2 separate regions of the Homo sapiens genome follow, and region 2 is linked to region 1. The links come from fine-mapping of genetic effects on gene expression. A gene starts in region 1. The other region holds a variant in brackets. All regions are shown on one strand. Distances are from middle to middle.

Region 1 (2,916 bases):
CTCTACTAAAAATACAAAAAATTAGCCGGGAGTGGTGGCGGGCGCCTGTAGTCCCAGCTACTCAGGAGGCTGAGGCAGGACAATGGCATGAACCCGGGAGGCGGAGCTTGCCCTGAGCCGAGATGGTGCCACTGCGACAGAGCGAGACTCCGTCTCAAAAACAAAACAAAACAAAACAAAACAAAACAAAAAAACCCCTTCCATACTTTATTTGTGCATAGTGTTAAATTTTTCTTAACTTCATTATTTCATATATCATAAGATGAATTTATATGGCTATCTCTACCTCATCAGGTTGTAAATTGCCTTCTAGAAACATTAGGCCGTTTTTGGCATGCTGTGTTTAATTTAGGCATGCCATGACCATTCAAAAAGATTCAAACCCATTGCTGTCGCTTAAAATAATTATTTGATGAATTCAATAAATTTTTCTTTTTCCTTTTGCCTGGACTTAGTGCCACTGGCACTGGAATTTAAACCACTGAGCTTAAATTGGCTGACGCTAGACAATTACAACTGGAGCTACAATACTGCCAAAGAAGAGGCTTTCTGGGAAAGGCTCCAATGCCCAGTCTCTAATCCCAGATACCACTGGGTGTCAATCCACTTAAACCTTGGCTAACAATTTTTCTTTTAAGAAGCATTTTTTGTAACAGAACAATAATTCTGGTGTTGTTTCAACATGCAACACAAATTAAATGAGAGTTTGAAAGATGACTGAATAGAGACGATTAGTTCTCTGAAGAGGCAAGGATCTGTAAAAATGTATGATACGCATAAACACGCTGGCCTGAAATTTAACGATGCTAATACACACTTGGTGGTACAAGAAAAAAAAATCTAGGAAGTAAAGCAATGCAAATAAACCAGTGGTGGTCTAAACCACAATATTCTGCGGAGCCAGCACTCGCGATTTCCTCGTTTTTGGAAAATTACATCTGTCACAAGAGCACTGAAACCCTTCCTGTATATCAAACAGCAAAGAATGTTTTAGAGAAGGCATAATAAGTAAACTGCTCATAGTTACTTATTCACACAGTGGTTTTAAGTGCCAGGTCTTGCCTCCAAGCAGTACCACTGGGCATCCCTCTTGACATCACCTCATTCCCCTTCCCCAATCTACCGAAGCGATGACCCTTCACCGCCCAGTACCCAGCAGTGACCAGAGTGGTGGGAAGGGCCTAAAGGGGCAGGTTGCGGAGGTTCCTTTGCTTCCACTACATACCTGAAGAAGAAGGGTATTGGGGCCCCCTTCCGCAACCCGCAAAGACCCGACAGCCTCAGAAGCCACCGCCGCAGCCACAAGCAGAGCCCCGGTCACATCCCGGGACCCGCTCCTCCGCAGCTCCGTTTGTTTACGGAAGTGACGTAAGAGGTACAGCCTCCATGCCCCAAGCGGAAGCCCCGCCTTTTCCTGCTCCCCCAGTGTCGCTCTTGGCTCCGCCCTCGGCATTTCATTGCTTCCCCTGTCCTTCCTTTAGCTGTAACTCCGGCGGGCGTGTTGGGTGTGTCGTTTTAGGCTCTGTGACCCAGGAGCAAGACGCAATAAGCGGGTGCAGTGGAGGTAGAAACGGGAAATGCAGTACCCTTTCCGGAAGCTACTCCGCCCCTCGGTGAGTGTTAGATTCCCCCCCCGAACTACAATTCCCAGAATGCTGTTCGAGCATGCCCGAAGGCGGAACCAGAGTGTCGCCATGCAACTGTTCCTTGGTTGTTTCCGATTGGTTGCCCGGACTTCTCGCGGCTAAACTAATTTTGGCTCCAAGGCGGCGTGAAGAGTGTGATTCTGTTCAGCGACCGTGATTCTGTTCAGCGACCATGATGTTGAGCCCCTAATTGAGAGTCTGTTACCACTATTAATAGCTACTCTGTTCGGGCCCTACACATAACGGTGTATCTAAACCTCTCTACAATTTTATGGGTAGGTGTTATACTCTCTGTTTTACAAATGGGGAATTTGAGGCTCAGAAAGGCTAATTGATGCAGGTGTCTCTCTGTCGTCAAAGATAGTTCTACTTCCACTATACTTAAAGCCTCTGGAGAAGGAATTGCAGGCTGAGAGAAAGAGATCTATCTTAAATGAGGGAAGAAATGCACGTTTCATTGCCTGGTCTGGGTAGCCTTCCCGGTGTTGGAGTGGGAGGTGGGAAGGTTTTAGATTCACAGGTCCTTAGATTGAAGGGACTCTGGAGGAACACCACATAGCACCCCCCGCATTAGCTAATGGGGAAACCATATCTAGAGATTGTATCCATGCCAGAAAAGGCAGAGCAAAGACAACCCCAGTCTCTTGGCTTCTAGGATAGGATGTTCTTCCGCCACCCGCCATTTAAAAAAAAAAAACAAAACTATTGAAATGTTAAAAAAAAAAAGCACAGAATAAACAACGCACCCACTATCCAGAACGAACAGATTTATGAATGAAAGAAATGGAGCATTACAGATAAAGAAGGTGTTCCCTATTCTCAGTCCCATTCTACTACCACCCTCAGAGAGGCAACCAGGATCATGAATTTGATATGTATCTTGCCAATCTAGGTTTCTATATTTAAACTATTACTATGTATTATAAACAATATGTAGAATGGTTTGGGGCATTTGAAGTTTTACATGAATGCTATTATATTTTGTGTATTGATCTGCAACTTGATTTTTTCACCAAATTCTGTGTTTTTGAGAGCTATCCACATTGATAAATATAGCTAGACTTTATCAAATAGATTTGTCACAAATTATTTGGGAATTCCCATAGTGATGGATGTTTAGGTTGTTTCCCATTTTTCACCATTACAAACACTACTGTACAGTCTGCTCAATATCTTTTCCCAGTTTCTCCTTTTAATTAATGTCGAATTGTCTTATTTGTATGAACAGAGCTTGCAACTGGTGATTCACATGCTACTTTTTTTTTTTTCA
Region 2 (2,916 bases), 33 kb after region 1:
ATTCATCTGTCCCTACCACCTGTTCCACATGGCTGGCCCAGCATCAGAGGAGGTGTGGGAGTGACAGAGCGGGGTATAGACACTGCCAGCAGGGTATGGTCAGGACCTGGTGGAATGAGGAACTGGGGAGGGGCACTCACGTGGGAGGAGAAAGGGAAGGCTCCTTGGAGGAGATGGTCTTAGAGCTGAACCTTGCAAAACTGTGCTCTGACCCACGAAGCCTCCCATGCATGGGTGAGATTTGGGAAAGGAAAATGTGGGACTGTGAAGACCTCCAAGTGCCAGTAAGGAGGGTGTCAGACAGATCTGTGTATCTGGAATATTCCTTAGGGGCTGGCGAGAGGTCTGGACCAGAGGGGAAGACTGAGGGTGGGGAGGCCTCGAAGGAGGATGGGCATGGTCCAGGCCGTAGAGAATGGGGCTCAAGTCTAGGCAACTAGGAGGAGCAGATACACAGGGAAGGTACAAAGGCAGGTTTGGGACATGTTCACTCTGAGGGGGCTGGACCCTGGGGGCAGGGACCTAGAAGCATCTTATGGGCTAAAGACAAAGATGGTCCAGGAAGCATCAATGTGTGGTGGGGGATGGAGGCACTGAAGCTGGGAGAGAGGATGACGTCTCCCCAGAACACAGTGGAGAACAAGGCCTGAGACTGAGCCCTGGGGCTCCTAACATCTCAAAGATGGCAGAGAACACAAGAAAGTGACAAATACTCTGGATGCCCAAGTAGGAGGTGAACCAGGTAAGGGTGGTGTCCTAGCGGTGGAAAAGGGAGAAGCATCAAGGAGCAGTGATGGAGTTCTTGGCATCAAAAGCTGCTGGGATGTGTGAAAGGACAGCCATGCAGATCCCAAAGTCATGAGGGAGGAAAGCTGAGAGTTGGGGCTGGGGACTGAGGGCTTGGCTGCTCTGAGTGAGGTTAAGCAGGGATGGGGAGGGAAGATGGGGACCCTGGTTGGGGGACTGAGGGTGGCTAAAATGAAAATGAAAAAAATATGTCACTATTAGCCATCATGATCTATCTGGTATTTGCAGGAGTCATATAGGTAAATTAAACAGGGATGTGATGGAAACCAACACGTCTGCATCCTTTAAATATCTGAGTTGTGCTTATTCCCAGAATTCCTCTTGGGATGTGTTTCTGATTTGCTATCTTGGCACTTTGGTGGCAGGAGGCGTTTTTCAGGGTTATTTTCTAGCTACTCTTACCATAATAACTTTTGGTAATAGGTCAATAACTTTTGACAATAGGTCAGGGGCTGTAAAAATTTGGCCAGCTGTTAAGTGTGTCCATTCAAACTTCACATATGAGAACTGGGGATATAGCCACAGAATAGGTTATTTCCTATTCTTCAGGATTCTATTTTGTAGAATTTTTGGACTCACAGTGATATGGCTTCTCTGTGTCCCCACCCAAATCTCATCTTGAATTCCCACGTGTTGTGGGAGGGACTCGGTGGGAGGTAATTGAATCATGGGGGCAGGTCTTTCCCATGCTGTTCTCGTGATAGCGAATAAGTCTCATGAGATTCTTCGGTATTATAAGGGGGAGTTTCCCTGCCCAGTCTCTCTCTCTGCCTGCCGCCATCCATGTGGAATGTGACTTGCTCCTTCGTGCCTTCCGCCATGATTGTGAGGCTTCCCCAGCCATGTGGAACTGTAAGTCATTAAATCTCTTTCTTTTGTAAATTGCCCAGTCTTGGGTACATCTTCAGCAGCAGCGTGAAAACGGACTAATA[CG/G]CATAGTAACGAGGACTAGGGCCAGAACTGCATTTATTACCTGGCCTCCATACGTCCTTTCTCTACCCAGTGGTCTATGATGGCATTTTATGTTTGCTTGTTTTGGTGGCAGTTCAGACCCTGTTATGTAATAGTCCTCAAAATGCCTGGAAAATGCCTTTCCCCAGTGTACGGTTTTTTTAGTAAATGGCTGCAAGAGCTTTTGGGGAATAATTGGGGGAATGTTTATCGTACATACTTGAGCAGGTTTTAGATGGTCCTTCCTCAAGGAGACATATACTCCTCTTTGATCACAGGCTGTCACCTATGAACTGGCTAAAAACTGGGTGAGAGACCACAATATTTTTCCACTTTGCAGCCGATGTCAGTCTTCTCTTCAATTGTTTTGTGTTTTATTTTATAAGGTAAATAAGTAACATCCTGATTGATTGGGTATCCATCTGTCTTGCTCCTAGGAACAGCATGATCTATTAACCATCACCACAGATGTCTGTAGGTCAAGCCACTCTGATCGCCATTCCAGCCTTGCTATCTATTATAGCAGTGATGTCCGTATTGCCTCTGTTAGGTGCCACTCCCTGGCCTCTGCCATTCCAGAATCTTATTACGTCCATTGATACTAGAAGGCCAGTTTCAAGACTGCATCTCTTCAACGTATAGAAGAAATGTGTCATTGAGTTTCTGAAAGATCCCAGTACAAACTTCCTTGGTGCATTTCTTACTGCTTTAGTGAAGCAAATATCTTTCAGGGATTCCTGGGAAATATAATCAGATAGTGGGTTTTCTGATCATATTTAATAAGTGTAATACATATTTTTTTGTTTTAACATTTTCACTGCCATGTGCCTTATTACTCCCTCCTCAATATTCTGCCAAAGTAGTTCTGGCTTCTCCACCTCATTTACATAGGACATCAACATGGCCAAGAGTCAAGAGCAGCATATTAGAGTAACTCTGGTGGGATGCAGTGGCTCACACCTATAATTCCAGGAGGATTGCTTGAGTCCAGGAGTTCAAGACCAGCTTGTGCAACATGGCAAGATCCCGTCTCCACAAAAAATAAGAAAATGTTTAGCTGGGTATGGTGGTACACTCCTGTGGTCCCAGCTACTTGGGGGGCTGAGGCAGGAGGGTGGCTTGAGCCCAGGAGATGGAGGTTGAAGTGAGCCATGATCA

The links. PIP is the estimated chance that this variant, and not a neighbour inherited with it, causes the effect. A credible set is the group of variants that fine-mapping cannot tell apart.
Region 2: its variant is the best candidate, but not a certain one, in a credible set for the expression of CCDC28A-AS1 in thyroid (GTEx, PIP 0.51).

The regions. Positions count from the first base shown.
Region 1 is chr6:138,772,212-138,775,127 of GRCh38, reverse strand. CCDC28A-AS1 (CCDC28A antisense RNA 1) reads left to right here and starts at 1,425. Exons shown (of 3, transcript NR_161205.1): 1 at 1,425-1,613. CCDC28A (coiled-coil domain containing 28A) reads right to left here and starts at 1,359. Exons shown (of 6, transcript NM_015439.3): 1 at 1,226-1,359. RefSeq lists enhancers at 1,047-1,106, 1,467-1,526, 1,547-1,596, 960-1,633, 1,634-2,308.
Region 2 is chr6:138,739,255-138,742,170 of GRCh38, reverse strand. All of the region lies in intron 2 of CCDC28A-AS1 (CCDC28A antisense RNA 1), which reads left to right. Among named protein-coding and RNA genes, the nearest start is that of CCDC28A-AS1, 33 kb to the left of the region's middle. The variant CG/G (reference allele first, on the strand shown) is at 1,740.